6 separate regions of the Homo sapiens genome follow, and all the other regions are linked to region 1. The links come from fine-mapping of genetic effects on gene expression. A gene starts in region 1. Each other region holds a variant in brackets. All regions are shown on one strand. Distances are from middle to middle.

Region 1 (4,755 bases):
TCTTTCTTTCTTTCTTTCTTTCTTTCTTTCTTTCTTTCTTCCTTCCTTCCTTCCTTCCTTCCTTCCTTCCTTCCTTTCTTCCTTCCCTTCCTTCCCTTTCCCTCCCTCCCTCCCTTCCTTCCTTCCTTTTCTCTCTCTTTCTCTCTCTCTCTCTCTCTTTCCTTTTTGACAACTTCTTGCTCTGTTGCCCAGGCTGTAGTGCAACTCACTGTAGCCTCGACTTCCTAGGCTCAAGCAATCCTCCCCCCTCGGCCTCCCAGTAGCTGGGACTGAGGCAGAAATTAAAATAATAATAATAATAAGTACTACATATATTCACTCCAAGAGAAGTAAGAGCTAAGGCCCAGAATGTGGCAAGGCAAGGGTTAAAAAAGAAGAAGAACAAGTTTTCCTCTGCTTAGCAGCTCACTTCAAGGACAGTTATAAGATAACGCTGTCCGAAAAGCCAAGGCCAGAGGACTGGGCTCCAGACCCCGCCCTCCACCCCACCGCCCGCCTCCAGAGCAAGGTTGAAGGAAAAAAAAGAGAGAAAGACAAATTATTTTATTGCTATTCCTTTCCTTGGTCTCTTAAGCATGACTATGTTTTACAAACCTCTCTATTTAGCCAGTTCTTGTTTTACTTTTGATGCAGCTACAAGGCCACCAGCTATGCAAGGCCACAAGTTATGCACTATATGATTAACTACTTTTGTTTTACCTTTCTAAGCTTGCTTATAAAAACCCCACAATATCTTTGTTCTAGGCTCAGCTTTTTGGATGTGAATCCACTGAGCCAGTGCGTACGTTGAAATAAACATCCTCCTGTTCTCTCATATTGGTCTCTCCGTTCCTCAGTTTCCCACAACAGGACTACAGGTGTGCACCACCAAGCTCAGCTAATTTTTATATTTTATAGAGACAGAGTCTTGCCAGGTTTCCTAGGCTGGTCTCAAACTCCTGGGCTCAAGCATTCCTCCCACCTTGGCCACCCAAAGTGCTGTGATTACAGGCATGAACCACTCACCTGGCCTTCCCTCTCAAATTTTAAGAGTTCCTGATATATTATATGATATATGTTGAGATATATATACATATATATATGTAATGTATATATATGATATATGTTGCAAATAGTTTCTCCTGGTCTGTCAGATGTCTTTTGACTTTGCTTATTGAGTTTTTTGACATGAAAAAGTTAAAAAATTTATACAGTCAAATGCATTAATCTTTTATTGCATCTAGGTTTTTTTTTTTTTTTTTTTCTTTTGAGACAAGGTCTCATTCTGGTTGCTCAGGCTGGAGTGCAGTGGTGCAATCTCGACTCTCTGCAGCCTCGACCTTCCGGGCTCAGGTGATTTTCCTACCTCAGTCTCCCGAGTAGCTGGGACTATAGGCGCGCCTCACTGCGTCCGGCTACTTTTTTGTATTTTTAGTAGAGACGGGGGTTTCACCATGTTGCCCAGGCTGGTCTTGAACTCCTGAACTCGCCCGCCCTGGCCTCCTGGAGTGTTGGGATTACAGGCGTGAGCCACCGCGCCCGACGGCATCTAGGTTTTGAGTAGTAGTTAGACAGCTTTTTCCCACACACATGTAAAAAGGGTATTTGAGGGACAATGGGAAAAGTTGGAATAAAGACTGCATTAGATAACTGTATTAAATAAATGGCAAATACCATTAAATAAATCTGGCCGGGCGCGGTGGCTCACCCCTGTAATCCCAGCACTTTGGGAGGCTGAGGCAGGCGGATCACCTGAGGTCAGGAGTTCAAGACCAGCCTGGCCAACATGGCGAAACCCCGTCTGTACTGAAATTACATAAATCAGCTGGGCGTGGTGGTGCGCGCCTGTAATCCCACCTACTCAGGAGGATGAGGCAGGAGAATCGCTTGAACCCGGGAGGCGGAGGTGGCAATGAGCCGAGATCGCGTCACTGCACTCCAGTCTGGGCGACATATGGAGGTTTTGTCTTGTCTCAAAAAAAAAAAAAAAAAAAAACTTGGGGAAGTGTGCTAAACCGGGTTTGCGTAGGTGGAAGGGGCGGCCGGGCTCTTTAAGGTGGGTCCCGCCCCGTAGGCCTCCCCTCGCGCCAGCCCCTCCCATCCCGGAAAGGCTCAGCCCAAGCCCGGCCCCGCCCGCCCTCGGCCCCGCCCATGGCAGAGCGCAGTCACGTGACCCGGGCTGCGGGGCGCAGCATTGTGCGGTCATGGTGGGCCAGATGTACTGCTACCCCGGCAGCCACCTGGCCCGGGCGCTGACGCGGGCGCTGGCGCTGGCCCTGGTGCTGGCCCTGCTGGTCGGGCCGTTCCTGAGCGGCCTGGCGGGGGCGATCCCAGCGCCGGGGGGCCGCTGGGCGCGCGATGGGCAGGTCCCTCCAGCCTCCCGCAGCCGCTCGGTGCTCCTGGACGTCTCGGCGGGCCAGCTGCTTATGGTGGACGGACGCCACCCTGACGCCGTGGCCTGGGCCAACCTCACCAACGCCATCCGCGAGACTGGGTAAGGGTTGGCTTATCCCCACGCGGGGCCATCGGGGGAGGGGGATGCGTGGGCGCCGGACCTCGCCTGTTCCCGGGACCGGCCTCTTGCCGGGTGGGAACGCCCGTTTCTCTGGGGGTCAGCTACTCCCGAGGCTGCAGCACCGCCCTGCGGGCCAAGTACCCTGTTTGGGAGCTGGCTACTGCGGCATCCCTCACCTCATGGGGCCAGTCCCTTGCCTTCAGCCAGTGGTGACAGTACTTCTGTCCCCAAGAAGCCAGTTCCCTACCACCGAGGCCGCAGTGCCTGCATCTGGATCAGGTCCATGGCTGGTGGGTAAATTCTATCCTCACGGGGACCTGCTCCCTTCCCTAGACTTTGCCTCCTCACCCCATGGAGGCCAGCCCCCTGTCCCCAGGCCTGAGGGGTGATGAGAACTCAGCAGGAGACTAATTCTTACCTGCTTGGCTGTGGCTTGCTCGTGGGTGCCAGCACCCTGCCTCCCTTCCAGTGCCAGGTCAGCAGGACTGAACCTGGGTTCCAGGCTAGTCCAAAAGCAGAGGGTCCCTAAAGTCACATAGACCCATTTAGTATCCTGCTAGGGCTCTGCTCCTCCCTTGTCTTCTGTGTCCTGGTCCAAGGGGAAGTCCTTGGCTGGATGCCGTGTTTGGCAGCCATGCTCACCATCTTTATTGCTGGAACCCAGGCTGTCATTCTGATGTGTGAGTCTCACCTAACTCCTCCGCCTGTCTGGGCTCCCGTTTCCCCATCTGTGGCCCAGATTTTGAGGATGTGCTCTAGTTGGGTGGTCATGTGCTGCAAGTTCTGTACAAGGGCTTGTGCCCATTCATTTATTCATTACCCTGATGGTTGGCCTTAGGGACACAGCTGAGCAGCTGTCTCTACTCAGTGGGAAACACAGACAGCGATAGAAGAGAAATCAGAGTCAGTGGGAGTGGGAAGGATCAGCTTCAAAGCCTTGTCAGCAGGGCCCAGACGCTGGATCAGGCTGTGCTGGGGGATCCTAGGGAACCCGGGGTGCATCCGTCATATCCTAGTGTCCAGATGATGCTAGGGAACCCTAGCACTAGGATGTGCCCAGGATGTGGTCTGTGCTCAGACCACACTGCCCCCTGCAGCAGAAAGGGCCTCCTCCCACTTTAGCCCCTATCCATTTTACTGGCATCCATTGGCTTCTGCAGGTGTTAGGGAGACACAGGATGCCGAGGACACCCCCATTCTGGTGGCACTTGGGGGGTACATCAAGTAGACGTGAGATTTGGGGGAGATATTTGCACAGACACAGGGGCACTGGTTGGGGTAAATCTGGGAAGGCTCCCAGAGAGAGGAGGCCACAGAGTGAGCTGGCATCTGTGGAGGGAACTGAAGCTTTGTGGCTGGCCTCGGGGGCTGCCGGGACTCTTGGATCTGGTGACCCGTTCTTTGCTGACTCACTCATGTTTTTGGCCCTGCATAGCAGAATCAAGAGGACATGACAGAACTGTTCAGGCGAGGAGGGGCAGGAGCGAGGCCCAGCATGGGGAGGGGGCTTTGGCCTCTGGAGGCCCCTCCTGGGCTGTGTTGCTCTTGACTATGGTAAACATGGAAGTGGAGAGAAGGCTTCCTTGATTGTGCTGGATGGAAAGTTCTTCCAGGCTCAGCCCCTCTGCTGTGTGACCTTGGGCAAATCCCTTCACCTCTCTGAGCATGTTCCCTCATATCAAGGTAGGACCAAAAGGGTCATGGAAATTCACTGGGGTCACAGAAAGCACTGTTTATTTATTTTTATTTGTATTTTATTTTTTGAGACACAGTTTCACTCCGTTGCCCAGCTGGAGTGCAGGGGCACGATATTGGCTCACTGCAACCTCCCCACCCTGGGTTCAAGCGATTCTCGTGTCTCAGCCTCCCAAGTAGCTGGAATTACAGGTGTGTGCCACCATGCCCGGCTAATTTTTGTATTATTAGTAGAGATGGGGTTTCACCATGTTGGCCAGGCTGGTCTCAAACTCCTGACTTCAGGTGATCTGCCCATCTTGGACTTTCTGGCTTGTTTTCGGCACCCTCTCTCATCCCCTCCTCTTACGCTCACATGCCCCTTTCCCTTTGAGTTTGCCAGCCCTTGAGGCTCTGATGCAGGGAAAACCATAAAGCGAGCCCCATTTTATAGGCAGGAAACTGAGGTCCTCAGAGACAGCTGCTTGAGGACTCAGGGTCAGATGAAAGAAAGCCATAGGGGGTGTCCTGGCTCCTGATCAGCAGAATCTCTGATCTGTGGGGGACTCTGTGTCTTATTTCGGAGG
Region 2 (4,755 bases), 77 kb after region 1:
GGTGTTTGACTTTAGGGGGCTTCTCCCCTACTGGTTGGCTAGAAGTGGGCACCATGTGGCTGACCTTGGAGCTGACCCGCTCCCAGCCTCCCTGGCTGGCCTGGCCTGGTTTTCATAGTGTGGCAGTAGGACAGGTCGCTTGGGTATTGTGGAAAGCACATGGCATCTGTTTGTCCGCCTGGAAGTGCTTGTCCAATTCTCAGGAGGCCTCTGGGCCCACACCAGGTATGGTCTCATCTGCAGGGCTGTCCCCAGACTACTAGATCCTGGGGCCACCAAGGAGATCCTGGGCCTCTGCTCCGGCCTCCATAGCAGTCCCACTCCCGGCTGTTCTGAGGGCCCTTGGTTTCTCTGTAGGTCTGGGACGAGGCCAATCTGAGGGCGCAAGAGTTGGCCAAGAGGGACGGCTGGGAGAATGTCCCCCCGTTTGACCACCCCCTAATATGGTAAGGCTGACGCCCCTCTCCCCAGGAGTCCAGAGCTGGGAGACCTTCACTGAGTCAGGGTCCTCCCATTGGGCAGAAGGAGAAACTGAGGCCCAGAGGGGAGAAGAGGCTTCAAAGCCAGGCAGACATGGGTTCAGATCCCACTTCTGCCCCCTTGTGAATTGTGGGACTTTGTGCAAAGCACCCCAGATCCTGTGCCTCAGTTTCTATGTGTGTAAAATGGAAGTGATAGTACCAAGTCTCCTTTACTGAATATGTGCTTTGGGACCAGGCACCAGGCTAATGGCTCCTCCTGCACTGTTCTATTTACCCTCCCCAAAGCCCTAGAGGTGGGTGCTATTATCCCCATTTCATAGGTGAGGAAACTGAGGCACATCGAGGTCAAACAACTTGCCCCGGATCACACAGCTAAGTACATGGCAGATACAAAGGGCTGCAGTCAGGCTGGTCCCAAGTGATACACTTGTCCCCTCTTAACCACACATTGCCATTGCCTCTTTGCAAAGTTGGGGAGGGGGCTAAATTGGGATAATGTCCAAGAAAGGGCCTGGGAGGTTGATGGAGATGGGAAGGGATGAGCAAACAAATACATAATAAAGAAAATGAATGAGGCCAGGCGCGGTGGCTCACGCCTGTAATCCCAGCACTTTGGGAGGCCGAGGCGGGTGGATCACCTGAGGTCAGGAGTTCGAGGCCAACCTGGCCAACATGGCAAAACCCTATCTCTACTAAAAATACAAAAATTAGCTGGGCGTGGTGGTGCGCACCTTTAGTCCCAGCTACTCGGGAGGCTGAGGCAGGAGAATCGCTTGAATCCAGGAAGTGGAGGTTGTAGTGAACTGAGATCGTGCCACTGCACTCCAGCCTGGGTGACAGAGTGAGACTCTATCCAAAAAAATAAAAATAAAGAGAATGAATGAAGCTGAGTGAAGTAACTGTTGCAGGACTTCCTCTCCCCTCACCGTGGATGGGATGGGGATGGTGGGGAGGGGTTTATGTATATGAGGGGGCAGAGAACCCACCCCTGGTAAATTCCCCCACCACAGGAGCCATCTGGGCTGGGGTCCTCCCTCACTCTGCTTCTCCCTCTCACCCCCCCTCCCCAGGAAAGGCCACGCCAGCCTGGTGCAGGAGCTGAAAGCAGTGCTGAGGACCCCACCAGGTGCCCTGGTGCTGGCAGTTGGGGGTGGGGGTCTCCTGGCCGGGGTGGTGGCTGGCCTGCTGGAGGTGGGCTGGCAGCATGTACCCATCATTGCCATGGAGACCCATGGGGCACACTGCTTCAATGCGGCCATCACAGCCGGCAAGCTGGTCACACTTCCAGACATCACCAGGTGGGTAAGGGCTGGGGACATTTGTAGGGGCTGGAGGGTGGGTGTGCCACTGTCCTAGGGCCTTCCAGTCCCAGCCGGTGGAGACGGGGGCACCCAAAAGGCTGTCCTTGGTCCTGGGACTCCAACCACAGTAAAGTGGACCTGAGTTAGAAGGCAGTGCTGAAAAAGGAGATGAGGAATATGATTCATGTAAACCTAATCAGTTCTTAAAACAAGCTTTCATTGACTTATCATTACAAAAGCAATCCATGTGTGTTGCAAATAAGTTTGAAAATGTAGGCCAGGCACCATGGCTCATGCTTGTAATCCCAGCATTTTGGGAGGCTGAAGCAGGTGGATCACTTGAGGTCAGGAGTTTGAGACCGGCCTGGCCAACATATAGTGAAACCCTGTCTCTACTAAAAAAATACAAAAATTACCTGGGCATGGTAG[C/T]GCACGCCTGTAGTCCTAGCTACTTGGGAGGCTGAAACGGAAGGTTTGCTTGAGCCCAGGAGTTTGAGGCTATTGTGTGCTATGATCGTCCCTGTGAATAGCCATCGTGCTCCAGCCTGGGAAACTTAGCAAGACCCTGTCCTCCCCCAAACCCCCCAAAAGCCAATAAATTTTAAAAAGAACATGATCACTGAATTTAGGACCCACCCTAATCCAGTATGATTTCACCTTAATTTAACTAATTACATCTGCAAAGACTCTATTTCCGAGTAAGATCACATTTTGAGGTTCTTGGTGGATGAGCATTTTTTTTTTTTTGAGATGGAATCTCACTCTGTTTCCCAGGCTAGAGTGCAATGGCGCGATCTCAGCTCACTGCAACCTCTACCTGCTGGGTTCAAGTGATTCTCCTGCCTTAGCCTCCCAAGTAGTTGGGATTACAGGCATGCACCACCACACCCGGATAATTTTGTATTTTTAGTAGAGACGGGGTTTCACCATGTTGGTCAGGCTGGTCTTGAACTCCCCGACCTCAGGTGATCTGCCCACCTTGGCCTCCCAAAGTGCTGGGATTACAGGCGTGAGCCACTGCGCCCGGCAAGGACACACTATTTTTGAGCACCTCCTCTGTGACTTATAATGCTGAGCTCCAACCAGCCCATGGCAGGATGGGAGGGGGTGGCTGGGGCTGGGGAGAGACCTGTTTCACCAGCTCTTCCCTGAGCCCCTGGTCTCCCTGCCCCACCCTGCTCTATCCTGCAGTGTGGCCAAGAGCCTGGGTGCCAAGACGGTGGCCGCTCGGGCCCTGGAGTGCATGCAGGTGTGCAAGATTCACTCTGAAGTGGTGGAGGACACCGAGGCTGTGAGCGCTGTGCAGCAGCTCCTGGGTGAGTGATCCCTGTCCTCCACCTGGGCTCAGAGACCCACGAAGTCCCTGCATCCTCTAGCAAGAGTGTGTTCTGTCTTATCTGTATCCTCAGCACCAGGCACTGGCTAGGTGTGCAGTTACTGTGCACTAAGTGCACGTCGAGTAGATGGAAGGGGGTGAGGATAAAGAAGGAGTGTATCTTGCTGTCTCTAGCCCCCAGACTTTCATACATGCTGCTCCTCTCTCTGGCTGGCCCTGCTCCCTATTGGTTTGATGTGACTGAGGGCTATCAGCCATCATAGCACCTCCTTCAGGAAGCCTCCCTTGATCACTCACCCCACGCTGCCTGGGTTGTGGACCTCCAATGCACCACTCCCTGTGTTCATAACCTCCTGGTTCTTATCCCTCTACATCACTGATGTGAGCCCCATGAGGGCTGGTGTGTCTTAGTCCCTGACGTGTCCCTAGGGCCTTCCTGGCATAGGGCATGGCAGGTAGTAGGCACTCAATAGATGTTTGTTGATTGAAGGGATGAATATATGAGTGAGTGGAAAGGTGGGTAATGGATAGATGGACAGTGGATGGATGGACGGATGGATGGATAATGAAGTGACGGATTGATGAATGGTATAGAAATGAATGAATGGACAGACACATTGATTAATGAACATGTTGATGGATGGACAGACAGTCAAATGATGGATAGAGGAATGGATGGATGGCTATGAATGGGTGGATGGATGGATATGTTGATGGATGGGTACACTGATGGATGGACAGATAGATAGTCTAATGATGGATAGAGGAATGGATGGATGGATAGAGAGATAAAAGGTGGATGGTGGAAGGATAGGAGGCCAGGCTGATGGATGGGGAGAGCGTGAGACAAGTGATGGATTGCCAGCAGAGCAGATGAATGGCTGACTGGCTGGAGAGATGGCTGCAAGGATCTGCCGTGCCCAGGGCCTGCTGAGCACCGAGTGGTTCTTCTTCCCTTTCCTTCCTCTCTCCATCCCCCGATCCTGGCAGATGATGAGCGTATGCTGGTGGAGCCTGCCTGTGGGGCAGCCTTAGCAGCCATCTACTCAGGCCTCCTGCGGAGGCTCCAGGCCGAGGGCTGCCTGCCCCCTTCCCTGACTTCAGTTGTGGTAATCGTGTGTGGAGGCAACAACATCAACAGCCGAGAGCTGCAGGCTTTGAAAACCCACCTGGGCCAGGTCTGAGGGGTCCCATCCTGGCCCCAAAGACCCCTGAGAGGCCCATGGACAGTCCTGTGTCTGGATGAGGAGGACTCAGTGCTGGCAGATGGCAGTGGAAGCTGCCCTGTGCAACTGTGCTGGCTGCCTCCTGAAGGAAGCCCTCCTGGACTGCTTCTTTTGGCTCTCCGACAACTCCGGCCAATAAACACTTTCTGAATTGAGTTTGCGAATGCTATGGATCCTATCTTTCCATGTCAGTGAGCTCACAGGAGACACACCACAATCCTGTTGCCACTTCTGTAATAAAGTGACTCCAAGCCCCATCTTAGGCAACAAAGCCAAGACTTGAAAACCTCAGTCTCTAAAGGAATCCAACCATTATGAGATCTTAAATGGGCTTCCTTTACCTGGAGGACCAGCCCAGGTTGACCAGGTCAGGAAGGAGAGGGAGATGTTCTATCACTTCTCAGGCCTAG
Region 3 (4,755 bases), 34 kb after region 1:
CATCCATCTACCCATCCACCCATTCACTCATCCATCCACCTTCCTATCCATTTATCATCCATCTACCCACTCACCCATCCATCCAACCTTCCAACCATTTATCCACCCATCCAACTATTTCCATCTGTTCATTTTCCACCCATTTACCCATCTACTAATTCACTCATCCATCCACCTACCTATCCATTTATCATCCATCTACCCACTCACCCATCCATCCATCCTTCCAACCATTTATCCACCCATCCAACCATTTCCATCTGTTCATTTCCATCCATCTACCCATCTACCCATTCACTCATCCGTCCACCTATCCATTTATCACCCATCTACCCATCCATCCACCCACTCATCCATCCATTCATCCATCCACCCACCCACCCGTCCATCCACCTACCTATTCATTTATCACCCATCCATCCACACACGGGTCTGTGCAGATTCATTAATATCCACCCATGCATCCATATTTATCTATTTTCTATCCATCAGCCATCCATTCATTCATATCCATCCATCCATCTATCCATCCAGATGTTTATTGAGCACCTGTGTTCTGGGTCCTATTTGGGAGCCTTGTTAACCACCAAGACCTTCCTAAGCCATATTGTGGTATACAGACAGATACAAAAAAAAAGGCTCTCTCCCTGTCTGATCTCATGCAGCCTGCCTTGGAGACAAGACTCTCCCAGTGCTGTGTGCTTGGAGAGAGGAAAGCACACAGCCCTGGAGTCAGAGACCTGGGTTTCAATTCTGTCTCCACCTCTTATTAGCTAGCTATGGACTCCTCTCTGAGCCTCGATTACCTCATCTGTGAAATGGGGTAATGGTGTGAGCAGCGTTTCCCTGGGGGATGTGATGCAGCCCACTTGGGGCCTCATGCACTCAGCATCTCTTTATTAGCAAACACTTATTGAACCCCTAGTACATGCCAGGCACTGTTATGAGGTCCCGGGGATACTTTATAACAAAAGGGACAGAAGCATTCCTGCTCTTGTGAAGTTTACATTGACTAGATAGTAAACAAAATAAATGAAATATGCAGTGTGTCAGTGCTGGTAAACCCGTGGAGAAAATAAAGCAAGGTTGGGGTCTGGGGTTGGGAATTGACTTGTGGTTTTATCTTATTTTCCTTTTTATTTATTTATTTATTTTTTGAGACGGAGTCTCACTCTGTCGCCAGACTGGAGTGTAATGGCACAATCCCGGCTCACTGCAACCTCTGCCTCCTGGGTTCAAGTTATTTTTCCTTTTTGTAGAGACAGAGTCTCACTGTGCCAACCAGCCTGGTCTTGAACTCCTGGGCTCAAGCGATCCTCCCACAGGCGTGAGCCACTGCGCCCAGCCCTGAGTGACTCTTAAACTTCAGTTTGAACTTGGGGTCATCCAGAAAGTACCCTGAGGGTGGGGTTCCCTCCATGCTCTGGAGCCAGCCCCAGTAATTCCTCTTTGATCTATGATACGGGCTTCAGCATATGCTTTTGTTGGAAGAGAGGGCTCCATGTTTGAGGAGGGTTTGCATGACATTGACTTCAAGTCCACCCACCCTTTCCCTCTCCCAGAGATGGGTGTCCAGTGTCAGCTCACACACGCCCAGGGGAGGGGGCCTCACTTCTTTGCTTCCATTGGGTCTGTGATGAAATAATTCTGACTTAGTAGGAAGGACTTCATATCAGAATGAAGTTGGCCTCCCCAGCTGCTTCTGCCTTCAGCGGAGGCAGCCTTTGTCCCACCCCAAGTCCCTCTTGTTTAGCCACCTGCTTCCTGTGGTACAGGGATGCCCCTGTCCTGGCATGCAAGACTAGCTGGAGTCAGGCTCCTGGCCTCACTCTGGGGCCCCAGTTGAGAGCTGGGGCTGAGAGCAGACTTGGGGTGGAAGGAAAGCAGGAAAGGAGACAGCTGATGATGGGAAAATGCACAGGATCTTTGTTTCATAAATATATTTTATTTTTCAATGAAAAAGTTTGCACATTAGAAAAATTAGTAAGGGTCAGGGGTGGGCTTCCTGGGAGGATGGCTGAGATGGTTCCTCAACCCTGGTTGGTGGCCCTGTTGACCTTCACTGGGAACAAGTTCAGGGGCGAGGTCACAGCTTTGAGGAATTCCTCACTGCTGTGATTCAGGTCTCTCCTGTCCACCCTGCTCTGGGTACCTGGTGTGTTACTTGTGGGCACTTGTCACGCCAGCAAGTTGGCTAAGGATGGGCACAGAGCAGTCACACAGATACCAAAAAGGTCCAATTCATAGCCTCGCTGGCTGCCGACCTTTGGCCTCTGCATAGTGGGCTCCTGATAACAAGAAGTTAACCTGCACCCAGGCCACAGGTGCTCAG[C/T]CAAACATACGACGAGGCGCTGGATAAAACTCCAGCCCCTCCAGGGGTCTCTTGGGCTAGGAGAGCACAGATCGGTAAGGGGTCCGTCCTCACTTGGGCAACCTATTTGTCATGCCCAGCTGTTCCTTGAGCGCCCGCAGCTGGGCCAGGCTGATGTTGCTGCCCCCGCAGACGATGACCACGAGGGATGGCAGCGGGGTTCGGAGATTCCCCTCCAGTTGGAGCTTCTGGATCACGTGGCTATAGACAGCGGCCAGGGCTGCCCCGCAGGCGGGCTCCACCAGGATCTTCTCATCATCTGCCAGAGAAGGGGCGTGACAGGGGCGTGGCCTGAGTTTCCCAGGGTGCACAGGAGCTGACAGGCCATTGGCAGGACCTGGGAATACTGAGCCAATCAGCTCTCAGCCCTGGCTGCAGCCGCAGGTCCTGAACCAAACGTCCCGTCATCGGCCTGAATTGGCCCTTCCAAGCCTGAGCCAGGGCCTGGGTTTCATCATGAGTGCTAACACTGATAGAATGAGTGTGGTTGCGTGAGCACTGTGTTGAGAAGGATTCTGAGGCATCATCTGAGCAAGAGTTCCATGGTTGATTAGCCAAGTGTGCAGCAGGTACAGAAGCATAAATGGTACTATTTTTTTCTCTCTTTTTTGCCATCCCTGCCCTAGACGGAACCCAGAAAGAGTCCAGCCTAGTTACAGACTCACCTCTGAATGAATCAAACTCTGAGCCCCATGTTTTCCTTTTTTTACCCTGGCTGCCAGGAAACTCAGAAGCAACATTTTAAATATTCACTTATTGTTTTCTGCTGCTATGGTTATCAGGCTTACTTTTCTATTTACTTTTCCATTATGTGTGGCTTTTGCTTTTCTATTTCTACACGGCATTGTATTATCTTCTATTAATGGAAAATTCTAGGCAGAGGTGGAAGACAGAACTGTGAAGGAAACTTGGGGTGAGTGGGATCCCCAGTGGCATACCAAGTGGACAGCCACTTAGCGCCTGAGTCAGCAGGTCAGGTCATGGGAGGACCTGGCACATACCCACGAACTTCTCAATGGCGGCCACAGCCTCCTGGTCCGAGATAACTTCAGAGAAAATGGGGTGTTCCTGAAACAGCTTCAGGGCCTGAGCCCCCACAGTCTTCACGCCCAGGGCCTTGGCAACACTGAGAGAAGTGGGAACCCAGAAGAGGATGGGAGTGGGGGAAACAGGAGAGAGATGGGGGCAGGGAGGGAGAGAAGGAGATGGATGTGAGACAGAGAAGGCAATGCATCTGGGGGCAGGGGGACAGGTATCACCTCTGCAGCTGTAAAACCCTGAAAAGCCTCAGGGATCCCCAAACCAAGTGGGGTCTTCTAATAAGGTGCAGAGTGTTTGAATTGACATCATATAGTATATTCTTTAGTATCATTTTTTTAATTTTTTTGAGACTGAGTGTCACTATGTTGCCCAGGCGGGTTTTTGTTTTGTTTGTTTTTTTGTTGTTTTTTTGTTTTTTTTTTTTTTTAGACGGAGTCTTGCTCTGTTGCCCAGGCTGGAGTGCAGTGGTGCGATCTCAGCTCACTGCAATCTCTGCCTCCCGGGTTCAAGCAATTCTCCAGCCTCAGCCTACCGAGTAGCTGGGACTACAGGTGCCCACCACCACACCCGGCTAATTTTTGTATTTTTAGTAGAGATGGGGTTTCACTATGTTGACCAGGCTGGCCTCGAATTCCTGACCTTAGGTGATCCACCCCCCTCGGCCTTCCAAAGTGCTGGGATTACAGGCATGAGCCACCATGCCCGACCCCAGGCTGGTCTTGAACTCCTGGGCTCAAGTGATCCTCCTGCCTCGGCACAGCGTCATATTCTGATCAACACTAAGTCAGGAGCAAATGCCTAAGAGGACCCTTGTTGTTCCCTGCTAGGACTCCCTGCTTTTGCTCCGGGTTACAACCGCTACCTGGTTAACCCTCATGAAGCTTAGCACCACTCTGCCTGCCCACATCCTGCTGTGTCCTTCAAGGCTCAGGATTAAGGCCACCTCCTCCAAGGAGTCCTCCTGGGAGAGTACTGAGTCCCACGGCCCTATGTGGAATTCTCAAATAGTCCTCCCTGCTAGTAACAAGCGCCCTGAGTACTTCTTGAGAAAGTGTTAGGTGCCAAGCACTTCACAAGCATTATTGAATTCACACAAGAATTCTGCTGTTGTTAATTGGTTTGATTTTGGAAAGGGGAAACTGAGGCAGAGAGTGTACAGTCACTTGCCCAAGGTCACACACCTAGGGAGTGCTGGAGCTGGGGCTGCAAGCAGGATCTGTATAACTTCAAGACCTGCACTGGTAACCAATGTGTTGACGCTGTCCCCAGCTTCCTGGGGTGACCACTAGCTCTATTCCCAGCTCAGCTGCCCCCTCTCCCTTCCCCAGGAGCATCTTGAGGGC
Region 4 (4,755 bases), 29 kb after region 1:
CCAGACAGTTTGGCAGTGTAGTTGCATGGCTTAAGTCAGCATCCATGTGACCTCTGGTTCTAACACCCAGAGCAGGGTGGTGTGGGGTGGCCAGGCTCAGGGACTGGCCCCTGCCAGGGTCTCTGACTGGATCTGCCTTACTGGGCTGTACAGCTGTCACCTCCTGAGGCTCACTTACTTTACCTGCATTTTCTCATTTGACTCTTAAAATTGCCACATGTGGTCACTAGAGTTCCTGTTCCCATCTCACAGATGATGAAACTGAGGCCCTGAGAAAGTACCTCACTTTCCCAAGCTTCCCCTGTTGGCGAATGGTGAAGGCAGGATTTGTTTTTTGTTTTTTGTTTTGAGACAGAATCTTGCCCTGTCACCCAGGCTGGAGTGCAATGGTGCAATCTCAGCTCACTGCAGCCTCCGCCTCCTGAGCTCAAGTGATTCTCCTGCCTCAGCCTCCTGAGTAGCTGGGATTACAGGCGCCAGCCACCATCCTTGGCTAATTTTTCTATTTTCAGTAGAGACAGGGTTTCACCATGTTGGCCAGTCTAATCTCAAACTCCTGACCTCAAGTGATCCGCCTGCCTTGGCTTCCCAAAGTGCTGGGATTATAGGCATAAGTCACCACACCCGGACTGAAGGCAGGATTTGATGCCATGCCTTTTGGGCCCCAGAGCCCAAGCTTGGCCACCCCACCAAGCCACCCCCCAGCACAAATGGAAGACATTATTGTTATCCCGAATGTCATAGTTGGTTTTGTTGTTGTTGTTGTTGTTTGTTTGTTTGTTTTTAGAGACAGAGTCTCGCTCTGTCACCCAGGCTGGAGTGCAATGGTGCGATCTCAGCTTGCTGCAACCTCTGCTTCCCGGGTTCAAGCGATTCTTGTGCCTCAGCCTCCCAAGTAGCTGGGATTACAGGCACGTGCCACCACGCCGGCTAATTTTTTTTTTTTTTTTTGAGACGGAGTCTCGCTGTGTCGCCCAGGCTGGAGTGCAATGGTGCGATCTCAGCTTGCTGCAACCTCTGCTTCCCGGGTTCAAGTGATTCTTGTGCCTCAGCCTCCCAAGTAGCTGGGATTACAGGCACGTGCCACCACGCCGGCTAATTTTTTTTTTTTTTTTTTGAGACGGAGTCTCGCTGTGTCGCCCAGGTTGGAGTGCAATGGCTCGATCTCAGCTCACTGAAACCTCCACCTTCCAGGTTCAAGTGAGTACATGCCTCAGCCTCCCGAGTAGCTGGGATTACAGGCACACACCACCGTGCCTGGCTAATTTTTGTATTTTTAGTGGAGACAGGGTTTCACCATGTTGGCCAGGCTAGTCTCAAACTCCTGAGCTCAGGTGATCTGCCCGCCTCGGCCTCCCAAAGTATTGGGATTACAGGTGTGAGCCACTGCACCCAGCCTGAATGTCGTAGTTGTAAGTAATAATGTCCTGGTGTGACTGCCCCTCCCCTCCCTGGCCACAGCCTTGGCTGAGTGAGGCCAGTGGGGGTCATGGGTGACCATCCTTGTCCCCGGCAGGTCCTTCGAGACTGTGTTCAATGCCAGTGGGCTGCAGGCCCTAGTGGCCCAGTATGGGGACTGGTTTTCTTATGACGGGAGCCCCCGGGCCCAGATCTTCCGGCGGAACCAGTCACTGGTACAAGACATGGACTCCATGGTCAGGCTGATGAGGTAGGTGCCAGTTGGGTGGTGGGTTGGGGAGAGGGAGGCCGCAGGAACACAGAACTTCCTGTGCGCTTTTTGTACCAACTCATTCAAACTTTGCTGCCAGCCCCAGAGGGCCAGCAGGGGGTGGTCAGATGTTGGACACCAGTGCAGCAGCTCGGTGGCCGCTCTCCACTTGGGCCCTGTCACTGTCCTCATAGCTAAGGGGAGGATGCTAGACATCTGTTGAGTGACCTGTACTGCTAGGCACTATGCTTGGTACCAGGAGCAACAGGTAGAAAACCTGTGCCCCACTGTCCTGTCTCTTGGGCGGTGCAGAAATCCATCAAGTTCTTGCACTGGTGTCAATGTGTAAAGATGGCTGTGTTCCAAGAGAGGCTATCCAGGAACAAACGGGTGCCTCACCTGGCTGGGGTGGTGGCATGGAGGCCTTCCCTGAGGATGAGTGCCTGAGCAGAGAGCTGAATAATGAAGGCAGAGTGACTTAGGTGAAGGGGTCCGGGCCCCAGGCAGAGGAACTGTCGGGGGTAGTGTGCAGTGGGAGGGGCTCATCAAGTTGAAGGCTGGCAGCTGTTAACGGGGCTGCCTGTGAGGATTTTGGCCCCCGTCTTAGCCTCTCCTTCCTGGGATGACTGATGTTCCCTCCTTTTCCCCATCCAGGTACAATGACTTCCTCCATGACCCTCTGTCACTGTGCAAAGCCTGCAACCCCCAGCCCAATGGGGAGAATGCTATCTCCGCCCGCTCCGACCTCAACCCGGCCAATGGCTCCTACCCCTTCCAGGCCCTG[C/T]GTCAGCGCTCCCATGGGGGTATCGATGTGAAGGTGCTGCCTCCTCCCTAGGGCCTGAGCTGTGGGTGGGGGAAGTCACCATCACCAGCTTTGGGGAAGGGACAGGTTGGGGCAAAGCTGATGGCGGGGCAGGAATCACAGTCGGAATTGGGCTGTGGTTGGGGTCACAGTAAAGGTGACAGTATGGGCTGGGCACGGTGGCTCATGCCTGTAATCCCAGCACTTTGGGAGCCCAAGGTGGGCAGATCACTTGAGGTCAGGAGTTTGAGACCAGCCTGGCCAACATGGTGAAAACCCGTCTCTACTAATAATACAAAAATTAGCTAGGCGTGGTGGCGGGCGTCTGTAATCCCAGCTACTCAGGAGGCTGAGGCATGAGAATTGCTTGAACCCGGGAGGCAGAGGTTGCAGTGAGCCAAGATCACGTCACTGCACTCCAACCTGGGTGACAGAGCAGAGACTCAAAAAAAAAAAAAGTGACAGTTCAGAATTGGGCTCTGGGGTCAAGGTCAGGGTGGGAGGCTGGGTGCCTGGATTGGGGCAGGCCAGGACCCCTGCTCAGCTGCGGCTCTGCCCTGTCCCCAGGTGACCAGCATGTCACTGGCCAGGATCCTGAGCCTGCTGGCGGCCAGCGGTCCCACGTGGGACCAGGTGCCCCCGTTCCAGTGGAGCACCTCGCCCTTCAGCGGCCTGCTGCACATGGGCCAGCCAGACCTCTGGAAGTTCGCGCCTGTCAAGGTTTCATGGGACTGAAGTTCTGTCCCTGCTCTGCTGCTTTCGCCCCTGCTGACCCTCGTCAGGGTCACCCCCGTCCCAAGGCCACCGGACTTCTAACTCCAGCCCCTCCTGGGGGCTTCGTTCTCTGATCTGGGGTCTGAGTCATCTCCTCCTAGAGTGGGTCACGAACCTGATGGGGCTCAGAACTGACCCCCTCTCTCCCCCGAGGTGGGTGGGCACCGTGGCGTCTCTTCTGCCCTGCCCTAAATCTCCCACTCTCTGTTTCTGTCTGTTTCCTACTGCTGCTCTCTCAACCTCATTCCCACCTCTGGGGCCCCTTCCTCGTGCTTCTCCTTCCTGAGGGTTTGGGAAGGTCCTGGGGCAGACTCTGGGGCTCCCATGGGGTGGAAGGAGCCTGTTCCAGCACCCTTCTCCCAGCTGCATTCCCACGGGTGGCCCTGGAGCTGGTGAGCTTTGTCTGGGCGTTGTCTTCGGCTGGCATTGCTCCTCCCAGCTCTGGCCCCTCTGCTCCCTCAGGAAGCAGTCCCCTCGTCTCCCTTTCTGGGCAGCTTCCTTGAGGACAGAAACTTGAAAACAAACACAAACCAAAGTTTCTGGCCATCTGTGGCTGGAGGGTTCTGAATGTCCTCTCTCCATGTCAGGCAGAGGGTCAGCCCCCATGCTTCTGCCTCAGGCCCCACCCCACCCCACCCCAGGCCTGCCCCTCACCTCAGGGCCATACCCACAGCGCCCTGATGGAGGAACCAGACCGCAGGCTGTGCCACCATTAAACAAGAGCGGCTGTGGCCCCATGCTGTGCTTCTTGGGGTGGCAGGGAAGGTGGGGTCAGCGCTTTTTCTCCTCTCAGGTTTGGGTTCTGCGCCATCCCCCATGCAGCCTCCTGTGCAGCCCTCTGTCTGTCCTTCTGTCCATTCATTCATCTGCCAACATACTCACCCATCATCCATCTGCACAGCCTTCCACCCACCCATCCGTCTTCCATCATCCATCCATCCATCTACCTATCCATTTATCATCCATCCACTCACCCATCCAACCACCCATCCAACCATTCAGCCATCTCCATCTGTCCATTTTCTTTCTTCTTCTTTTTTTTTTGTTTTTGTTTTTTCTGAGTGGGAGTTTCACTCTATTGCCCAGGCTGGAGTGCAATGGCATAATCTCTGCTCACTGCAACCTCTGCTTCCTGGGTTCAAGCGATTCTCCTGCCTTAGCTTCCCAAGTAGCTGGGGTTACAGGCATGAGCCACCATGCCTGGCTAATTTTGTATTTTTAGTAGAGACAGGGTTTCACCATGTTGGCCAGGCTGGTCTCGAACTCCTGGCCTCAAGTGATCCGCCCGTCTTGGCCTCCCAAAGTGCTTGGATTACAGATGTGAGCCCCCGCACCTGGCCTCATTTGTCCATTTTCCATCCACTTACCCACCCACCCATTTACTCATCCAGCCATTGACTCATCCATCCACCTATGAGATCAGACAGGGAGGGATCCTTTTTTGTATTGGTCTGTATACCACAGCATGGCTTACGAAGTTCTTATCTATCTATCACCCATCCACCCACCC
Region 5 (4,755 bases), 120 kb before region 1:
AACCCAGTGTAATGCCTGGGTGTTAATGGCTGTTGTTTTAGGTGCTGATGTTTTACACAGCTGTGCCTCTTTCTGGTAGTACAAGTTTTGCAAAGGCAGGGATCATGTCTCTTCTACACATATTCTGGGCACAATAATAGACATAATAGAAGTTGCATATCTGGGAGTGAGTCACCGGTTTCCAAAAACATCCAGGGTCCCAGGTGACTGTCACAGCTAAACCAGCCCCTGGAGCCACTGGAGGGTGACAAGGAGACTCATTCACATGTGATCAGACCAGAAGTAGCCCAGCAGGGCATGGCGTTGCTGCCCCTAGGAACAGCCTACTTTTTGGATGTTTGGGTCTCTGCTTCCAGCTTCGAACTCCCCAGGAGCCCACACATGTCCAATCCCAACCTTCCTTCCATCTAAGCTTCCCCGTCGCCGCCCTACCATTTGTAGACTGCCTGTCTCTCTTTTTTATCTCTCTTTTTGTTAGATTGGGATTTTATTATTTTTTTTTCCTAATTCTTTCAGCACTTGCTGAAAACCAGCTTGGGCAGAGCGACCTGTGCTTAGTGCTGGCTAATGGCTTGGAGCTGCTCCAAGCTGCCGGCTGCGCTGCCTTTCACTTGTGGGTGGTCGTCGACAAGCATGATGTCTTCTCTCTGTGACTCTCGAGGGGCCTCTCTTCTTGCGGGCTCGGCTGTTCACACTTGGCTGGCCTGCCTGGTTGTTTGGAATTGCAGTTTTTACTGCACAGCCTCGAGCCAGTCTGGTAGCTTCAACAGGGCGCAGATTTTATGAGTGCTAAAGTCCACTCAGCCTCCAGCCTAGTTGGCCCATTTGATTTTGTTGCATGTTGTTTTTTGCTATTTCCTCTTGGAGACCAGACGCCGTCCAGAGTGTATGGGGACACAGAAGTCTATAAATGGAGGTGGCTTGGGAGATTCTTAGGCTGTGATGAATGTGTGTCTATTGAGGAGTGATGGTACCTGCTGGTGTCTACAACGGTTGAACATTTTCTGAGTGTCGCGCAGTCTGCAAAGGATGGGGTTGAATTTCTGGCATCGTCTCTTGATAGCTGAACATCCTTGAATGAGGAGCTGAGCTTGTTTTTTCCTAAGTTGCAGTTTCTTCATTGTAAAATCAGTATATGATTGTCTACAGTCAGAGTCTCAACCCATGAGTAGGTAATTGAAGGACTTTCTGCATTGAGGATGTGAACCTTTCCTCCGTTCTCACATTCTTCCGGTTCCTCTTAAGGGATGTGAGTTGGTAGTTTGCATTTTCTGAAGTGTTGTAGCAGTTGAGGGACAGTAGTTAACTTCCTTGACTACCATTCCTGTTGTGTTGCAGGGAGAATTAAAAATCAAGCAGCTCCATCTCCTGCCCATTCTTTTTTTTTTTTTTTTTTGGAGACAGAGTCTCACTCTTGCCCAGGCTGGAGTGCAGAGGCACAATTTCGGCTCACTGCAACCTCGGCTTCCCAGGTTCAAGTGATTCTCCTGCCTCAGCTTCCCGAGTAGCTGGGATTACAGGCATCTGCCATCATGCCTGGCTAATTTTTGTATTTTTGTAGAGATGGGGTTTCACCATGTTGGCCAGGCTGGTCTTGAACTTCTGACCTCAGGTGAACTGCTCACCTTGGTGAGCCTCCCTAAGTGCTGGGATAACAGGCATGAGCCACCGCTCCTGGCCACTCCTGCTCATTCTTTAGGGTGGCTTCTTGATTTCCATTGTATTTTCCTTTATTCACAATGCTCCTTTTGGGCTGCCTTCCCCACCAACAGAAAGGGAAACTGAAGCAAAAGGAAGGGAAGGCCGAAAGCAGTGCCTGGCCATTGACTGCATAGGAATTCAGGGCCCTGGAGAAGTGGCAGGCCTAGGCCATCAAGCTCTCTGTGGGATGTAGCTGTCCTCCAGCTGTCACTTCCCCAATGTGCCCATGCTTGCTTCATGGCCGCCTCACCTCTTGTTACTCTTCTTCTGAACAAAGCCACCTGCAGCAGCAGCAGCAGCAGATCCAGGTGCTGGGGCGTGGCCAGTGTTCATGGAAGCCGGGTCCAGCCAGCCCCCAGGTGTTTCTGGTTAAGGACTAGAGCGGACTTTTGATCTGTGCTGAGTGGATGCCATCAGCTGACACATCAGTAGCCTTCATGCAGCTTGAGTCTCAAGCCAAACTTGTTCTTCCGAGCACTGGCTTTCTGCTGACCTCTTGCAGGGGAACCAGAGCGCACCAGTGCACAGTGAAAAATGCCTTTAATCTCCATTTGCTCTTCTCCGGCTCCCTTCCTTGTCCCTGGGTGTTTCACAATTAGCATTTCAGATGCTTCCAAGTGAATATGGAACAGATGTTCGCACAGGTGCTGTACTCTTCACTGGGTAAACAGTGGCGTTTGCGTGCCTCTGCGTGTGTGTGTGTGTGTGTGTGTGTGTGTGTG[T/TGTGTGTGTGTGC]GCGTGTGTGTGTATGAGACAGCAGGAAGCATAGGGCCTTTACAAATGTTTTTTAAAGCGTCTAAAACACTTTACACATGACGGGTACTCAATAAATACTTTGTGAGTGAGTGAGCAGTGGCAGGGAAAGCCCTTTGTTTCATAATAAACCCAGTGGCATGGGAGCAGGAAGTACAATTCCAAGTTGGGTCTTGAAATTCATGGACTAAAGAAGAAGTCATGTCCTGCCTCACCAAGAAATTACCCGTGGACATCTGGCAAACCGGGGGGCATGCTGTAGGGACAAGACACAGTTCTCCATCTCAGGAAGGAGGATTAGACAATAAAAATGACCGTGGCGGCCCCTGGCAATTTAATCTGCCTCACGAATGTGAGCTGGCCACGGCTGTGCTGGGAAAAGGAACTTGCGGTTTTGCCCATGCAGAATGTTTGCAGATGGGTTAGGGAGTTAGCCAGGACTGACCTCCTTGGCTGTGTTTTTCCAAGTAGCACACCTGATCAGGTTGCTCCACACCATTAGTCCCCAGTGGCTCAAGTCCAGGCCCTCAGCATGGCTTTCCGCCTGGCCTACACCCCCAGCCTTGCGGAAACAGTGGAGGGAAAGGTGAGGGCTTGGCTGCCCGTCGTTTCCTCCCTCTGTGACCTTGGGCAAGTCACTCAGCTTCTCTGGGCCTTAGTTTCACCCTCTGTAAACTGGGGATAATAATCAAGTCTTGTTTGTAGGGCCTTTGTACACTTAGAAGAATTAATTAACGTAAAGCCCTTTCAACCGTGTCTGGTGTGTGGTAAGTACTGAATGCGAATCGTGGCTGTTACCTTTGCCCACTGCGTCATCCTGGTCACTGGTCTCTGGCACTTTAAGCTTCAGAATTACAGAACCCTCTGCAGTTTCTCAGACGTGCCCTGCTGTTGAAGTCTCTGTGCTCTCTGAATGACTATCCTTGTTTCTAGAATGTGCCACTCACCCCATCCCCATCCACCCTGTGAATACCTCCTCATCCCTCATGCTTGAAATGCCAGCCCTGGCATTCCCCTGAGTTCCTCCCTGCCACTGGCCACCAGCCCCCACGGAGGGCCCTTGTCATCCCAGCCCATTTTAGATCTCAGTGCACCAGAGTCACGATCCTTCATTACCTACTGATGGAGAGTTCCATGAGGGCGAGGGCCATGGTTTCACCTTTTCTAATCCAACACCTAGCACAATGCCTGGTATACAGTAAGTGCTGAATAAATGTCTCCTCAAATTAAACCATATGTGTTTGCATGTAGGTGGTCAGTCTTTTAAAACTACATCTGGCCGGGTGCGGTGCCTCACACCTGTAATCCCAGCATTTTGGGAGGCTGAGGTGGGTGGATCACTTGATGTCAGAAGTTCAAGACCAGCCTAGCCAACATGGTGAAACCCCATCTCTACTAAAAATACAAAAATTAGCCAGGCCTGATGGCGGGCGCCTGTATTCCCAGCTATTTGGGAGACTGAGGCACAAGAATCACTTGAACCCGGGAGATGGAGGTTGCAGTGAGCCAAGATCGTGCCATTGCACTTTAGCCTGGATGACAGAGTGGGACCCTGTCTCAAAAAAAAAAAAATACTACATCCTCCCTTTTTCTCCCCAAAATTATCATGTGATTTATTAAGACTAGAGGCCAGGCACAGACTCATGCCTGTAATCCCACTCCATGGGAAAGCATGGCTCATCCCTATAATCCCAGCACTTTGGGAGGCCGAGGTGGGTGGATCACCTGAGGTCAGGATTTTGAGACCAGCCTGGCCAACTTTGTGAACCCTGTCTCTACTAAAAATACAAAAAATTAGCTGGGTGTGGTGGCAGGCACCTATAATCCCAGCTACTGAGGAGGCTGAGGCAGGAGAATCACTTGAACTTGAGAGGTGGAGGTTGCAGTGAGCCAAGATTGTGCCACTGCACTCCAGCCTGAGCAACAAGAGTGAGACTCCATCTCAAAAATAAATAAATAAAAATAAAAATAAAATAAAAAAAGTTTAGAAAGGTGTTCTCAAGGCAATGTTTGCAACCTTAGGATGTCTGTTGTGTGTTCCTCATGTGGACGGTTAGGAAGTGGGCATCTCAGGCTGCAGTCACTGCCCCCGATGATTTTGATGTGCTCATTTCCCAGCCCCTCTCCCTGCCTACATTCTCCTCTGTCCCCTAACTCCCAAAAGCCTGTTTCTGATCTGCACCCCTCCTGCCTTTCCATGTCTTTCACACTCCATTTATAGAACTGCTCTCCGCTTCCTTGCCCCATCCCCTGCCAGTTCCAGGCTCCCTGGGCCTGGCCTCATGGATGACAGTGAACCTCTCTGGACTTGGCC
Region 6 (4,755 bases), 150 kb before region 1:
ACTTACAGGTTACCTGTGCCACTTTTATTTTCATATTGTCTGTAGATGTGAGAAATGTTTTGAAGAAAGAATCATTAGGACTTGAGTGAAAGAGTTTTGAGTTTGGGTGACTGGTAGAGAAAGATGGGGCCCTTAAGAAACTATGGCAGAAATTGGGAGAGGAGAGGACATTTGGAGGGGAGGACAATGAGCTCACTTTTAAACTCATTGAGCTCTAGCTGCCATACTGCAGTGGACAATGGTGTCTTGGCCTTCCCATTATCCAGGGAGTGCAGTGGCACGATCATGGCTCACTGCAACCTCGACTTCCTGGGCTCAAACAGTCCTCCTGCCTCATGCTCCCGAGTAGCTGATACTACAGGCACGTGCCACCATTCCCAGCTAATTATTGTATTTTTATTTTTGTAGATATAGGGTCTTGCTATGTTGCCCAGGAGAAGGAAGTGACACTTGAAGCCACAAAAGATAACTTCAACTCACCAAACCAAAGAACACACCAAGAGAATGGCAGGGAATCAAAGAAACACCCAAAGTGACTAAGAACGAAAAAGAAAGGCAGGCCAGATCAGGTGCTAAGGATGTTTAGTTCCTTGGCAAGGCAGAATGTATTCAATATCAGGCCAGGTATCATGGTTCACGCCCGTAATCCCAACACTTTGGGAGGCTGAGGCAGGAGGATTTGTTGAGCCCAGGAGTTTGAGGATGCAGTGAGCTATGATCAGGCCACTGCATTCCAGCCTGAGCAACAGAGTGAGATCTTGTCTCTTAAAAAAACAAAAAAACAAAAAACAAACCAGAAGCCCCTTTGGGAGCAGAGGATTGGGAATTATCTTCAATCACTTTGATTCACACACACTTCCTGCTCCCTAATGAATCTCATGAGATCCTTTGAGGCTTTTCCTGAAGACAAAGTTTTAGGAGGCTGGGCATGGTGGCTCACAGCTGCAATCCAAGCACTTTGGGAGGCCAAGGAGGGAAGATTCCTTGAGCCCAGGAGTTCAAGATCAGCATGGGCAACAAAATGAGACCTCTACAAAAAGTTAAAAAAAAAATTAGCCTGTCATGGTGGCAGGTGCCTGTAGTCCCCGCTATTTGGGGAGCTGAGGCAGGAGGATTGCTTGAGCCAGGGAGGTTGAGGCTACAGTGAGCCATGATCGCACCACTGCACTCCAGCCTGGGTGACAGAGCGAGATCCTATCTCTCCTCTTTTTTTTTTTTTTTTTTAAGCTGGAGTTTTGCTGTTGTCACCCAGGCTGGAGTGCAATGGTGTGATTTGGGCTCACTGCAACCTCTGCCTCCCAGGTACAAGCAGTCTCCTGTCTCAGCCTCCCAAGTAGCTGGGATTACAGGCGTGCACCACCACGCTAGCCTAATTTTGTATTTTTAATAGAGACAGGGTTTCATCATGTTGGCCAGTCTGGTCTCAAACTCCTGACCTCAGGTGATCTGCCCACCTTGGCCTCCCAAAGTGGTGGGATTACAGGCGTGAGCCACCATGCCCAGCCTAGATCCTATCTTGTAAGTGAAAAAAAAGTTTTAGGGACAGCCATGGAGATTTCTCAGGCTCTCTGAGGATGAAGGATCTTTGCCCATGGCTACAGGATGAATGTGAACAAGGTAGTTAATGAATGCAGTCCTCTCCATTGTACCCCAAAGCTCTCAGGCATAAATCAAAATGCCTGAATTCTTCAGAGAGTGCGGCTGGAAACGCAACGTTACATGAAATGTTTCCAATTTGCTTTCAGCCAAATTACCTCTTTTGCTTTAAAGGGCAAACTTGTTTTCTTTGATTATGATGACACCCATCATTTCTTGACAGCTCATTTGGGTGAACAAGATAAAGCCCGTGGAACTAGGATTGAGGGGAAATGCATCTGACTCTGACGACAAAAATGACTGGAGAATCTCTTTTCCTTGAATCCTAATATGATCATTTCATGTCCTTTTTAATGCCACCAACCTTAATATTTAAATCATTTCCAACTTAAGCATCTCCGTTTAAAATTCCTGCCCTGAGAGTGAAGCAAATTGTTAATGGATGGGAAACTTTAATTGGATATTCCCTTTATTTGTCATTAATTCTGCTGATGAACTTTATAAATGGAAATATATCTTTATCATGCAAATTATACCTCGTCTTCATTCAAACAGGCTTGTTGGATATTTTATTAATTTTGCTCTTAGAATATTTTGAGGAAAAAAAAGATTTGAACTAAATTATATATTTTTTCCCCCTGGAGAGAAGGAAAAAACCCAACACTTAACAACTACCCTACAAATCCAAACTGGCAAGTGGAAAAGTCAGAGGGTGC[T/TA]AAAAAAAAAAAAAAAAAAAAAAAAAAAACCAAAACAACTGGAGTGTGGGAAATGGATTTCTCTCTCTCTTTTTAAATTCACTCTTAATTTAGGTTCGGGTTACATGTGCAGGTTTGTTATATAGGTAAATTTCATGTCATGGGGGTTTGGTGTACAGATTATTTCATCACCCAGGTAATAAGCATAGTACCTGATAGGTAGTTTTTCCATCCTCATCCGGATCTCATTTTAAGGAATACCATTTTAACATTAGCTAAGTAAGTTCTTGAGAACTTACTGTGTAGCAGACACTGTTCTGAATGCTATATACGAATTAATTCCTTTAATCCTTGCAACAACCCTATGAGGTAGGTGCTATTATTACCTCTATTTCACAGATGAAGAAAGGGAGACAGAGAGAGAGGTTAGATGATTCTAGTTAGTTTACAGCTAGGAAGTGACAGGGCCTGCACCCCATCAGCACTATTCTGTCCAGTCTCTTGATTTTAAGATTGACTTCTGGCCGGGCGCAGTGGCCCACGCCTGTAATGCCACCACTTTGGGAGGCTAAGGCAGGTTGATCACTTGAGGTCAGGAGTTTGAGACCAACCTGGCCAACATGGTGAAACCCTGTCCCTACTAAAAATACAAAAATTAGCTGGGCATGGTGGTGGGCACCTGTGGAGGCTGAGGCGGGAGAATTGCTTGAACCTGGGAGGTGGAGGTTGCAGTGAGCCGAGATTGCAGCACTGCACTCCAGCCTGGGTGACACAGTGAGACTCTGTCTCAAAAAAAACAAAAACAAAAAACAAAAAAACCAAGGTCTTGCTATGTTGCCCAGGCTGGTCTTGAACTCCTGGGCTCAAGAGGAATTTTCTTTTTAGCCTCAGAAAGATCTCACTACCCTCCAAACCTCTAGCTTTCTTCCGAACTCTGTATGTTTTATCTGAGGCTTTCAAGTCTAGGGAGGGGGAAAGTGAGGGGCTAGAAAGAAGCAACAGATTCATGATGAAACCTGCTATCCCAACCAACTACTATACAGTAGGTGCTCAATAAAGAAATCACTGTTGCGGTTGGGCTCAGTGGCTCACACCTGTAATTCCAGCACTGTGGGAGGCCGAGGCAGGTGGATCACCTGAGGTCAGGAGTTTGAGACCAGCCTGGGCAATATGGCGAAACATCTCTACTAAAAATACAAAAATTAGCCGGGTGTGGTGAAACATGCCTGTAATCCCAACTACTTGGGAGGCTGAGGCAGGAGAATCACTTGAACCAGGGAAATGGAAGTTGCAGTGAGCTGAGATCGCACCACTGCACACTCCAGCCTGGGTGACAGCGTGAGACTCCGTCTCAAAAAAAAAAAAAAAAAAAAAGAGAAAAAAAGAGAAAAGAAAAAGAAATCACTGTTGAATAAATGAGATGGCAAACCCAGATTTACCAACAGGCTTGTCTCCTCACTGGGAGATGCTGGCATAATAGGATAATGTTGTTTTGCAAAATATATATGTCCTGAATTGGAGCCAGAAAAGAGAGTCATATTTTCATGATAGAACTGTAGGCCAACAATTGGCCTATGAATTCTTTTGCATCCCTTTACTCAGGGCTTGGAATTTTTTAAACAAAAGTTTTAAATGTAATGAATTTTTTACTTTTTCATAGTTGAGTGGTTTTTTTTTTCTTTCTGTGACTAATTTTGAACTATTACCCAATCCTCCTCTCTTGTTCTTTTTGAGAACCTGTGTTTTATGGTTTACAACTGGTCTGTAAAAGATTCCCAGGCTAGGGCTGCAGCAATGAATGCTGGAGGTATTGACAGTTGGGACCCTGTTTGTAATGCTGGCTGGGTGGCTGCAGGCTCCAGGATTATCTGGTGCTTTGGAGACAGAGGACATGGGATAGTGACTCAGATTGGGAGGGAACATGCCCCCCGGGACAGATTTCTATGTTGCTGGTTATGATGAAATACTTTCCACTGACCACAAGCTATATAGCCTTGGGCAAGTCCACTTGATCTTCTGGGCTTTCATTTCCTCATTACTGAAGTGGAAACGAAAAACACATTTGGAATGCAATTCCAGTGTCTCACCACTTCCTGGCTGTGTGGCTTTGGGTAAGTCGATTAACCTCTCTAAGCCTTGACGTTCTACCTGTGAAATGGGACACAGCACTGTTGAGGGAATGAAATGAAATCCTTGCTCAAAAGTGTTACGCTTTTATGACTTTTAGTACTACTTCAAAAATTATGTTAATATCAACACTTTAATGTTTCTTAAAATAGATGTGCTTTTCCACAAAATAATATGGTATATGTTTTTGTATCAAAGGCTTTATAAAAAGTCAAAACAGAAGCAGTTTTTACTCCTTTTTACTATTTTGTTTTTAATTTTGCTGGTTTCTGCATTATTCATGTTCTCCTGTTAGTGACCGAAGAAGACCAAGTTCCCTTAAATCACTCCCCATTGT

Direction of the effects. Positions count from the first base shown, and alleles are read on the strand shown. Sizes are in standard deviations (SD) of each study's normalised expression. Not every link is listed here.
For the expression in iPS cells of the gene that starts at base 2,170 in region 1, T is the low allele of the variant in region 2 and C is the other (large effect, 1.1 SD a copy in HipSci).

Evidence for each region.
Region 2: its variant is fine-mapped to the expression of PLBD2 in iPS cells (HipSci, PIP 0.95).
Region 3: its variant is fine-mapped to the expression of PLBD2 in whole blood (INTERVAL, PIP above 0.99).
Region 4: its variant is fine-mapped to the expression of PLBD2 in sun-exposed skin (GTEx, PIP above 0.99).
Region 5: its variant is fine-mapped to the expression of PLBD2 in whole blood (INTERVAL, PIP above 0.99).
Region 6: its variant is fine-mapped to the expression of PLBD2 in skeletal muscle (FUSION, PIP 0.95).

Annotation. Positions count from the first base shown.
Region 1 is chr12:113,356,418-113,361,172 of GRCh38, forward strand. It overlaps PLBD2 (phospholipase B domain containing 2), which reads left to right and starts at 2,170. Exons shown (of 12, transcript NM_173542.4): 1 at 2,170-2,473. The coding sequence starts at 2,184. LOC105369989 (a long non-coding RNA gene) reads right to left here and starts at 3,093. Exons shown (of 3, transcript XR_945346.3): 1 at 2,913-3,093. RefSeq lists silencers at 1,984-2,483, 2,534-2,593 and an enhancer at 2,929-3,428.
Region 2 is chr12:113,433,777-113,438,531 of GRCh38, forward strand. It overlaps SDSL (serine dehydratase like), which reads left to right. Exons shown (of 8, transcript NM_001304993.2): 5 at 358-446; 6 at 1,553-1,780; 7 at 2,975-3,099; 8 at 4,110-4,500. The coding sequence ends at 4,303. Among named protein-coding and RNA genes, the nearest start is that of SDSL, 14 kb to the left of the region's middle. The variant C/T (reference allele first, on the strand shown) is at 2,213.
Region 3 is chr12:113,390,520-113,395,274 of GRCh38, forward strand. It overlaps PLBD2 (phospholipase B domain containing 2), which reads left to right. Exons shown (of 12, transcript NM_173542.4): 12 at 1-1,110. It overlaps SDS (serine dehydratase), which reads right to left. Exons shown (of 8, transcript NM_006843.3): 7 at 3,373-3,497; 8 at 1,926-2,630. The coding sequence ends at 2,422. Among named protein-coding and RNA genes, the nearest start is that of SDS, 11 kb to the right of the region's middle. RefSeq lists an enhancer at 2,695-2,894. The variant C/T (reference allele first, on the strand shown) is at 2,333.
Region 4 is chr12:113,385,421-113,390,175 of GRCh38, forward strand. PLBD2 (phospholipase B domain containing 2) reads left to right here. Exons shown (of 12, transcript NM_173542.4): 10 at 1,517-1,669; 11 at 2,324-2,486; 12 at 3,039-4,755. The coding sequence ends at 3,206. Among named protein-coding and RNA genes, the nearest start is that of SDS, 16 kb to the right of the region's middle. The variant C/T (reference allele first, on the strand shown) is at 2,454.
Region 5 is chr12:113,239,370-113,244,124 of GRCh38, forward strand. The region is part of intron 2 of TPCN1 (two pore segment channel 1); the gene reads left to right. Among named protein-coding and RNA genes, the nearest start is that of TPCN1, 20 kb to the left of the region's middle. The variant T/TGTGTGTGTGTGC (reference allele first, on the strand shown) is at 2,424.
Region 6 is chr12:113,210,864-113,215,618 of GRCh38, forward strand. The region is part of intron 1 of DRC10 (dynein regulatory complex subunit 10); the gene reads right to left. Among named protein-coding and RNA genes, the nearest start is that of DRC10, 7.9 kb to the right of the region's middle. The variant T/TA (reference allele first, on the strand shown) is at 2,313.